Regions from separate parts of the Homo sapiens genome. Here region 1 is linked to region 2. The links come from fine-mapping of genetic effects on gene expression. A gene starts in region 2. The other region holds a variant in brackets. All regions are shown on one strand. Distances are between the middles of the regions.

Region 1 (5,390 bases), 39 kb before region 2:
TTGTTTGTTTGTTTGTTTTTACCAGTGGTAGATAACTAATACAGTGTCCAGTCATTGACAGGTGAACTCTAATTCCTCTCACCTTGAATCTGGGTTAGCCTCAGTGATCTTCGACCTATAGAATGTGGCAGAGGTGATGTTACGGGAACTTTTGAAGTTAGATCATAAGAAGCCTTGCAACTTTCAGGCCAGGTACAGTGGCTCACACCTGTAAACCCAGCACTTTGGGAGGCTGAGGTGGGCAGATCACCTGAGGTCAGGAGTTCAAGACCAGCTTGGCCAATATGGTGAAACCCTGTCTCTGCTAAAAATACAAAAATTAGCCAGGTGTGGTGACACACACCTGTAATCCCAGCTACTTGGGAGGCTAAGGCAGGAGAATTGCTTGAACCTGGGAGGTGGAGGTTACAGTGAGCCAAGATTGCACCACTGCACTCCAGCCTGGGCAACAAGAGTGAAACTCTGTCTAAAAAAAAAACAAGGCTTGCAGCTTTCACTTGGACCTCTTGGAACACTTGTTCTTAAGATGCTCTCTGTTTGATGCTCTTATTCAGAACCAAACTGTCATAATGAAAGCAGCCCAAGCCAGATGAAGAGGCTGGGTAGATACCGTAGTTGACAGCCCAGCTGAGTTTTCTACCAAAAGCCAGCATCAACTGCAAGCCATGGGAGGGAGTCATCTTGGATGTCTAGCCCAGTCAAGCCTTCAGATGATTACAGTCCAAGCCATCATCTGATAGCAACTGCTTAAGTGACCCCAAATGAGAATGCTCCAGAAACATAAGAGATAATAATATAATGTGGTTTTAAGCCACTAAGTTTTAATGTGTTTTGCATGTAGCAATAGGTAACTGAAATGACCCCTTAGAGTGAAAAGAGCCCTTATGCCATTTAAAAAATTCATTTTATAAAAATTTTTTGTGGAGACAGGATCTTACATGTTGCCTAGGCTTGTCTCAAACTCCTGACCTCCCAAAGTGTTGGGATTACAGATGTGAGCTACCATGCCCAGCCTCACTGATGCCATTTTTAATAATAGCCAACAAGAGGAAGGCTTGATGCACTATAGGGCCATTATTCTTCCATTTCTGATAAAGCAATATCCTTAAAATGTGAATTATATTACACAATCCATCTATACATAGTCCTTAGAATGAACCCCCAGTTCTTCCTTTGGCCTGTGTCATATGGCTTTTTTCTGGTAGTTATTCAAATATGGTCCACACCATCTTTCTCTCACTCACTGCTTTCTGGTCATACCGGCTTTCTTTATATGTCTAGGAAATTCCAAGTTATTCCTCAACTTAGTGTCTTTGCACATTCTGTTTCCTCTATCTGCAAGGCTATGCCTTTGGCTCATTTCATGCCATCTCTCTCTCTCTACCTATAAAGGAAGAGATTTATTATACGGTATTGGCTTATGCAATTATGGAGGCTGAGAAGTCCCTTGGTTTGCTGTTCTACAAGCTGAAGACATAGAAAAACTGGTAGGGTAGTTCAAAGGCCTGAAAGACAGAGGGCTGATGGTGTAGATGATAGTCTGGGTCTAAAGGCCTGCAAACCAGATTCACTGAGAACAGAGAAGATTGATGTTCCAGTTCAAGTGGTCAGGCAGAGTTAATTTCCTCCATCTTTTTGTTCTATTCAGGTCCTCACAGACTGGAGGGTGTCCACTCATATTGGGGAGGGCCAGCTGCTTTACTCAGTCCACCAATTCAAATGCTAATCTTGTCTGGAAATATTCTCACAGATAGACCTAGAAATAATGTTTAGCTATGTAGGCATCCTGTGACCAAGTCAAGTTGATACATAAAATTCACCGTCATAGTCATTTTCTCAGAAAGACTGTTTCTGATCAATATTTCTGCCAACCTTTTTTTTTTTAATCTGCAGCTTTGTTTCTTTTATTCATAGCATCTGTTACAACATTAGTTGATTACTTGTTTTCTCTTTCTCCACCTCTAGATGCTAAGCTCCATGAAGACAGCAGGTCATGATAGTTCTAAAGGGTGGAACATCTCAGGTATGTGAGAGGGGAAGGAAAATAGCTCAAGGAAATAAATAGCCTTAGAGGCCCAGGAAGGTATCCAGTAGTGCCTCACTGCAAAAATGTGAGCTTAAGCCGGAGAAGTCTCAGGCTTCTTAGGAACCCACAGGTCAGCCATTTCTGACTTTACACCATTGCCCATGTAATAATGTCAGCCTTAACTTGTAACTGGGTAGAGGGAAAAGTGGGACTCAAAGTGAATTTTTTTCTATTCATGGAAGAAAGACTGTACAAAACCAGAGAAGTTTTAGCTTTCAAAAATATATTTTATAAAACTTACAAAGGAAATACATGTTTATTGTACAAAATTTAAAAAGTACACAAAGTATTAAATAAGAGGTGAAATAATTATATCAATATATAAGTATAGTTCTGAGGAGATTATACAACAACTTTGCTAGTAAAATATTCCTATCATCCAGATTCCATAGGTGAAGAAATTGAGGCATTCAGAAATGTACTTGTGTTTAAATAACTTGAAAGTGGTGGAAATAGGCTGTGGATATATTCATTTTGATTCTAGAGCTGTGCTGTTCACTAAGCCAGCCAGTAGCCATATATGGCTATTTTAAAATTAAAATTAATTAAAATGGAATTAAATTAAAAATTCAGTCCTCAGTTGCATTAGCCACTTTTAAAGTGTGCAATAAACACAGATGGCTAGGAGCTACCCTGTTGAACAACATAGTGTTGAACCTTTCCATCATCACACATTTTTTTTTTTTTTGTAAACAAGTATTCTTAATTTTTATTTTGCTTGATCATTCTTTCACACCATCTTCTACAATGGTTTAACTAATTTACATTCCCACCAATAGTGTAAGAGCATTCCTATTTCTCTACAACCTCACCAGCATCTGTTGTTTTTTGACTTTTTAATAATGGCCATTCTGACTGGCATGAGATGATATCTCATTGTGGTTTTGATTTGCATTTCTCTAATGATCAGTAATGTTGAGCTTTCTTTTCATGTGTTTGTTGCCTGCATGAATGTCTTCTTTTGAGATATGTCTGTTCATGTCCTTTGCCCACTTTTTAATGGGTTTGTCTTTTTCTTGTAAATTTGTTTGAGTTCCTTGTAGATTCTGGATATTAGAC[A/C]TTTGTCGGATGGATAAATTGCAAAGGTTTTCGGACAGGTGCAGTAGCTCAAGCCTGTAATCCTAGCACTTTGGGAGGCTGAGGTGGGCAGATCACCTGAGGTCAGGAGTTTGAGACCAGCCTGGCCAACATGGTGAAACCCTGTCTCCACAAAAATACTGGGCATGATGGCAGATGCCTGTAATCCCAGCTACTCAGGAGGCTGAGGTGGGAGAATCGCTTGAACCTGAGAGGCAGAGGTTGCAGTGAGCTGAGATTGTGCCATTGCTATCCAGCCTGGGTGACAGAGTGAGACTCTGTCTCAAAAAAAAAAAAAAAAAAAAAAAGGGCAAAGATTTTCTCCCACTCTGTAGGTTGCCTGTTCACTTTGATGATAGTTTCTTTAGCTGTGCAGAAGCTCTTTAGTTTAATTAGATCCCATTCATCAATTTTGGCTTTTGTTGCAATTGCTTTTGGCAATTTTATCATGAAATCTTTGCCCATGCCTATGTCCTGAATGGTATTGCCTAGATTTTCTTCTAGGATTTTTATAGTTTTGGGTTTTACATTTAAGTCTTTAATCCATCTTGAGTTAATTTTTGTATAAGGTGTGAGGAAGGGGTCCAGTTTCAATTTTCTGCAAATGGATAGCCAGTTGTCCCAGCACCACTTATTAGATAGGGAGTTCTTTCTCCAATGCTTGTTTTTGTCAGGTTTGTCAAAGATCTGATGGTTGTAGATGTGTGATCTTATTTCTGAGTTCTCTATTCTGTTCCATTTGTCTGTGTGTCTGTTTCTGTACCAGTACCGTGCAGTTTTGGTTATTGTAGCTTTACAGTATAGTTTGAAATTCAGTTGAGTGATGACTCCGGCTTTGTTCTTTTTGGTTGGGATTGTCTTGGCTATACAGACTCCTTTCTGGATCCATATGAATTTTAAAATAGTTTTTTCTAATTCTGCACCACAAAATGTTTTATTGTATAGTGCTGCTATAGAGACTACTTCTAATCACATCTAGAAAATGTGTTTTCTTCAATCTCATTTCTTATTCCATAGTGAAGTGATTACTGCAATTCATGGTTGCCTGTGTATCCCTTCCACAATTTTTCCTAAGCAAATACAAATATAAATACCCATATACATTTTGTTTTGTGTTGTGCTTTTAAAAATAAGATCAACCTTACTTCTGCAAAAATGGCCATAATTAAAAAATAAATAATAACAGATGTTGGCTTGGAGGTGGTGAAAAGAGAACACTTCTACACTGCTGGTGGGAATATAAACTAGTACAACCACTATGGAAAACAGTGTGGAGATTCCACAGAGAACTAAAAGTAGAACTACCATTTGATCCAACAACCCCACCACTGGGTATCTACCCAGAGGAAAATAAGTCATTATATGAAAAAGACACTTGCACAGCATGTTTATAGTACACTGTTCACAATTGCAAATATATGGAACCAGTCTTAAATGCTCATCAACCAACAAGTTAAAGAAAATGTGTTTTATATATATACCATGGAATACTACTCAGCTATAAAAAAGAACAAAATAATGGCATTCACAGCAACCATTATTCTAAGTCAAGTAACTCAGGAATGGAAAACCAAACATCATGGGTTCTCACTTATAAGTGGGAACTAAGCTATGAAGATGCAAAGGCATAAGAATGATATAATGAACTCTGGGGACTTGGGGGGAGAAGTGGGAGGAGGGTGAGGAATAAAAGACTACACATTGGGTACAGTGTACACTGTTCAGGTGATGAGTGCACCAAAATCTCAGGAATCAGCACAAAAGAACCTTTCCATGTAACCAAACACCACCTGTTCTCCCAAAACGATTGAAATAAAATTTTAAAAGAAGACCAAATTATGCATATTGTTCTGTAACTTGTTTTGTTACTTAACGATTGATTTTGGATCTACCTGTGCATTAGGTTTTTAAGAAACTACCAAACAATTTTCCAGAATGGTGGCACCATTTATATTCCCATTAGCAAGTATGGGTGATTTGGTGTTTCTGGACACTTGTCAGCATTTGATATTGTTACTGTTTTTAAATTTAGCCAATCTGATGGATGTGTCATGTTACCTAATTGCAGTTTTAACTTGCAAATTTTTGTATTTTATTTTAATTTAATTTAATTTAATTTTATTTTATTTTATTTTATTTTATTTTTGTAGATACAGTTTCTCACTATGTTGTCCAGGCTGGAGTACAGTGATGCAATCTCGCCTCACTGCAACCTCCACCTCCAGGG
Region 2 (5,390 bases):
GCAGTGGCACAATCTCAGCTCACTACAACCTTCACCTCCCGGGCTCAAGCAATCCTCCCACCTCAGCCTCTGGAGTAGCTAGGACCACAGGTGCGCATCACCACACTCGGCCAATTTTTTGTATTTTTGGCAGATATAGATTTTCTTTTCCTCTTTTTTTTTTTTTTTTTGATGGAGTCTCCTTCTGTCACCCAGGCTGGAGTGCAGTAGCATGATCTCAGCTCACTGCAACATCTGCCTCCTGGGTTCAAGTGATTCTCCTGCCTCAGCCTCCCAAGTAGCTAGGATTACAGGCATGCACCACCACACCCAGCTAATTTTTGTATTTTTAGTAGCGACCAGTTTTGCCATGTTGCTGGGACTTGTCTTGAACTCCTGACCTCAAATGATCTGCCCGTCTTGGCCTCCCAAAGTGCTGGGATTACAGGCGTGAGCCGCCACGCCCGGCTGATACAGGTTTTTACCATGTTGCCCAGGCTATTCTGGAACTCCTGGACTCAAGTGATCCACCCACTTTGGCCTCTTAAAATGCTGGGATTACAGATGTGAGCCACCACACTCGGCCTTCCCTCTGAATTTTGAAGGCATTCGTGCATTATTTTCTAGCTTTGTTGTTTGGAACAACAATGCCATTCTATTTCCAAATCCATTCAGTGCAATATGTTGTTCTTTCTCTCTGGAGTCTTTTCGTATCTTTTCTTTATGTCTGATGTTCTCATATTACATGATAATGTCTTGCTTTTTGGGGATATTTTTATTCATTGAGTTTAGCATTTGATTGACCCGCTCAATACTGAGAGTCATCTCCTTTAGTTACGAGAGTCTTTCCTTTATTATTTCTTTAGTAATTTCCTCTCCTCTATTTTCTTTTTTAATGTTCTGAAACAATCCTAGTCCTTTGACTTTGTAGATGGTTATAATTTCTAACAAATTTTCTTAACTTTATTTTTCAAAACTTCCATAAAATTCGGGACATTTTTATAATGTCTATGTTCTTTTTCATGAATGTAAAATCTTTCTTTCTGAGAAAATATTAGCTTTTTAAAAAGTTTTTGAAGTTCTCTTTAGCTCTCCCTGTTATTTTTGTCTCTTTTTTATGTTAAATGCTTTCCTCAAATGTCTGATGATCCCTGGTTATCTGTTCATATCTGAAAGGGACACTAAAGACTCATTAACAGTTCTGCATGCATGGCTGAGGCTCATGCACTGATGAACTTATTGAAGGAGGGTTGAGTGGTTTTGTTGGGGAACACTCAAAACTATAAATATCTGAAAATGTTTTATTGGGACCACTTAGTTTATCCAGAGATTAAATCCTCCAGTTTCCTGGGATAGAATGGGGAAAGGATCCCTTGGTTCTGTGGGCATTCAGTGGGAAGATTCACTCTGAATCCCGTTATTTTCATCCCTGCTCATGTTAGTCTGGCTTCTCTGGGTCTAGAACCTCACCTGATATTTAGATTTTTCACTGATACCTTCAGTAGAAGCAATGTTGAATGTTTGAGGTTTGCTGGCTGTTTACAATCAATTAAGGATTTTTAAAAATCTAGAACATTTGTGAATTCTTATATTTTCTTCCTGGTACTAAGTAGGAGCTAGCCACAGGTAGGCCTCATCATATGGATACATTACCCAAACGGTCACAGGTCAAAGGACAATGTAGTGATTAACCATAAGCTTTGGAATCAGGAAGTTCTGGGCTTCAGTGTCTTCCTAAAACTTAAAAAAAAATTTAATTTTTTTATTAAACTTTTTTTTAAATAAAAAATTGAGATGGGGTTTCGCCATGTTGATCAGGCTGGTCTCAAACTCCTGGCCTCAAGCGATCCTCCCATCTCGGCCTCCCTAAGTGCTAGGATTACAGGTGTGAGCCACTGTGCCTGTCCTCACTTTTCTTTCTCCATTATTAGGGCAAGGAGGCCAGGGGACAGGGTGAGGGAGAACCTAGAATGGGAATGGAGGCAACTTTCAGTCTAACTATGCTTTGGCCCCATGAGGAATCTACATGTAAACACTTGCCAGTATGGAGAGTCAATTGCACTTTGTGACAGGCTGTACAGCAGTTGGGACAACTGTGGCACATGCACAGGTTATACAGGCATATTTGCACCAGCACATGCATGGATGCTTGTGCACATATAGGAAACCCACTATACACATGGACAAAGAAGCACAAGTATGTCCACGCCATCCCTCCACACACACACTAGTCACCAGGAGAAAAGGGCTCAGCACATTTCATCATGCATCGCCCATTGGGGGAAGCCATGTAGGACAGGAGAAAGGGAAGATTATGAGGCAAAAAGAGAAATGAAACTAAAGAGTCCCACCCTGTCAGCATTAACTGGGATATAAGAGGTTGGGCTTTGGATAGATAGACAGACTCCTGGGTCCGGTCAACCGTCAAAATGTCCAAAGAACCTCTCATTCTCTGGCTGATGATTGAGTTTTGGTGGCTTTACCTGAGTAAGTGTTCTGAAACCTTCTATGTAGAAGTTTCCAGAGGACTTGCTATTGTGTGATGGATTTCCATGCACTGGTTTGGGCCTCAGTGAAGCAGAAGCTCACTTCATTTCTGCATCCCTCCCCTCTCCCTACCAGGCTTCCTTCTGTGGAGGGTCTCTGTCCTGCCTTGTTACACAGAGGTTTATCCAGAGACTGGTCTGGGGGTTTTAGGCTGGGGTAATTTGGGCTTATATTGGAAACAGCAACTGAAGAAGAGACACAGAAATAAGTGGTCAGATAAATTGGGGAAAAGAGATTTCCTCTATGGGTGTTATTCATATAATCAATAAGCCAGGAGAATTTGTTCTGGTGAGAATTGTGATAATTCTTATCATTCCCTCTGTTTTTAGAAGTGTTTGCTTTTTGTTTTGTTTTGCTGGGGTGAGGCTTTATGTAAGGTTTCTTTTCTGCACGTTGTTTTTGGGTTTTGGATGATGCAAGTGTACACACTCAGTTTTGGCCAGTGAAGTTCTTTGCATCCTGGTGGTATAGAGCCAAGTGTTCTGGCCTGAGCTGCAGCTGCGTCTCGGGCACTAACTGTTGACACTGGGAATATGTCTAAATTGCTCTGGCTCTCCCATATTTGAAATGAGAGACCTGGCTTTTTAAATGACCAGTTGTCACAATCTGTGCTTCTAGGACAAGATAATATTGAATGGCCCTTGCAGTTTTACAAAAGTCCATTTTTTTTTTAAATGGATACAAAATAACTATACATATTTATGGGCTACATATGTGTTATTTTGATATATACATACAATGTACAATGATCGAATCAGGGTAGTTGGGATATTCATTTCTTGAAACATTTAAATTTCTTTGTGCTGAGAACATTTCAAATGTTCTCTTCTAGTTATTTTGAAATACACAAGAAATTATTAATAACAATAGGCACCCCACTATGCTATCAAACACTAGGACTTATTCCTTCTATTTAATTGTATTTTTTCCCTTTTTCCTCATGTTCTAACTAACTGTATTTTTGTACCCATTAACCTGCCTTTCTTCATACCCCTTTTCCCCTATCCTTTGTAGACTCCAGTGACTATCATTCTATTCTCCACTTTCATGAGATCAACTTTTTTAGCTCTCATGTATGAGTGGGAACATGCAATATTTGTCTTTCTGTGCCTAGCTTAACTTAACACAATATTAATAAACTCTGTTTCCATCCATGTTGTTGCAAATGACTGAGTTTCATTCTTTTTTTATGGCTGAATATTCTACTGTGTTTATATACCACATTTTCTTTTTTTTTTTCTTTCTTTTTTTTTTTTTTTTTTTTTTTTTTTTGAGACGGAGTCTCGCTCTTTTGCCTAGGCCGGACTGCAGTGGCACTATCTCTATCTCGGCTCACTGCAAGCTCTGCCTCCTGGGTCCACGCCATTCTCCTGCCTCAGCCTCCCAAGTAGCTGGGACTATGGGCGCCTGCCACCATGCCTGGCTAATTTTTGTATTTTTAGTAGAGACGGGGTTTCACCATATTGGTCAGGCTGGTCTTGAACTCCTGACCTCAGGCGATCCACTCACCTCGGCCTCCCAAAGTGCTGGGCTTATAGGCGTGAGTCACCGCACCTGGCCATATACCACATTTTCTTTATCCATTCATCCATTGATGGACACGTAGGTTGCTTCTATATCTTGGCTATCGTGCATAGTGCTGTAATAAACATGGGAGAGTAAATATCTCTTTAATTGATTTCCTTTCTTTGGGATATATCCCCAGTAGTGGGATTGTTGGATCATATGGTAATTCTATTTTTAGTTTTTTAAGGAATCACCATACTGTTTCCCATAATGGCTGTAGTAATTTACATTCCCACCAACAGCGTACGAGAGTTCCTCTTTCTTTGCGTCCTCGCCAGCAATGCTTGCTTTTTGTCTTTTTGATAGTAGCCATTTTATCAGAAATGAAGTGATACCTCATTGTGGTTTGGATTTGCATTTCCCCAGTGATTAGCAATGTTAAACATTTTTTCTTCTACCTCTTGGCTCTTTGTATGTGCAGAAACCTTTCCAACATGGTGCATGAGAAAACACCCATATTTGAAGGAAAACAAATGTGTTTCATCACCTCTCAAACTTGTACTATTCTCTCTGCCTTTCTTTCCTCCGTAGTGCCATGCATCCTCAGGTCCCTACTTAATTCAGGCTTTTCCTGGCTACCTTGTAGCCTCTGGAATAGTTCAGGTGTTTCTGCTATGAGTTCGCATCCTCCTTGGAGTTCCTGCATCTGTAAACTTGTCACTCTATAGCAAATGCTCACTCATTTGACTATCTTCCTAGGTACTCTGCAGGCCCCATGAGGGCAGCCCAGGTCTGCTTTGTGGCTTGTTATATTCCAGCACCTAGTTCCACCCTTGATACATTATAGGCACTGAAGAAACAATCTACAGGCCAGGGGTGGTGGCTCATGCCTATAATCCTGGCATTTTGGGAGGCCGAGGTTGGTGGATCACCCGAGGTCAGGAATTTGTGACCAGCCTGGCCAACATGGTGAAACCCCGTCTCTACTAAAAATATAAAAATTAGCCAGGCGTGGTGACATGTGCCTGTAATCCCAGCTACTCAGGAGGCTGAGGCAGGAGAATCGCTTGAACTAGAGAGGCAGAGGTTGCAGTGAGCCGAGATTGCACCACTGCACTCCAGCCTGGGTGACAGAGTGAGACTCTTTCTGAAAAAAAAAAAAAAAAAAAGGGGGAAGAAAAAAACAATCTACAGAATGAAAGCAGTCCCTGTCACTTTCACACTTATATTTTGGGTTTGGTATGGGTTTGTTTGGATGTAAGAAAGCTACCATCTGCCTTTTCATCAATTTTTTTTTACTGTCTTTGTCTTATCCTGGAAACTTGAAGTTTGGAAGGTTTTGTTAGGTTGAAAGTTGC

Evidence for each region. PIP is the estimated chance that this variant, and not a neighbour inherited with it, causes the effect. A credible set is the group of variants that fine-mapping cannot tell apart.
Region 1: its variant is the best candidate, but not a certain one, in a credible set for the expression of TIMD4 in whole blood (INTERVAL, PIP 0.51).

The regions. Positions count from the first base shown.
Region 1 is chr5:156,999,483-157,004,872 of GRCh38, reverse strand. No RefSeq gene overlaps it. Among named protein-coding and RNA genes, the nearest start is that of TIMD4, 39 kb to the right of the region's middle. The variant A/C (reference allele first, on the strand shown) is at 3,146.
Region 2 is chr5:156,960,217-156,965,606 of GRCh38, reverse strand. It overlaps TIMD4 (T cell immunoglobulin and mucin domain containing 4), which reads left to right and starts at 2,381. Exons shown (of 9, transcript NM_138379.3): 1 at 2,381-2,466. The coding sequence starts at 2,409.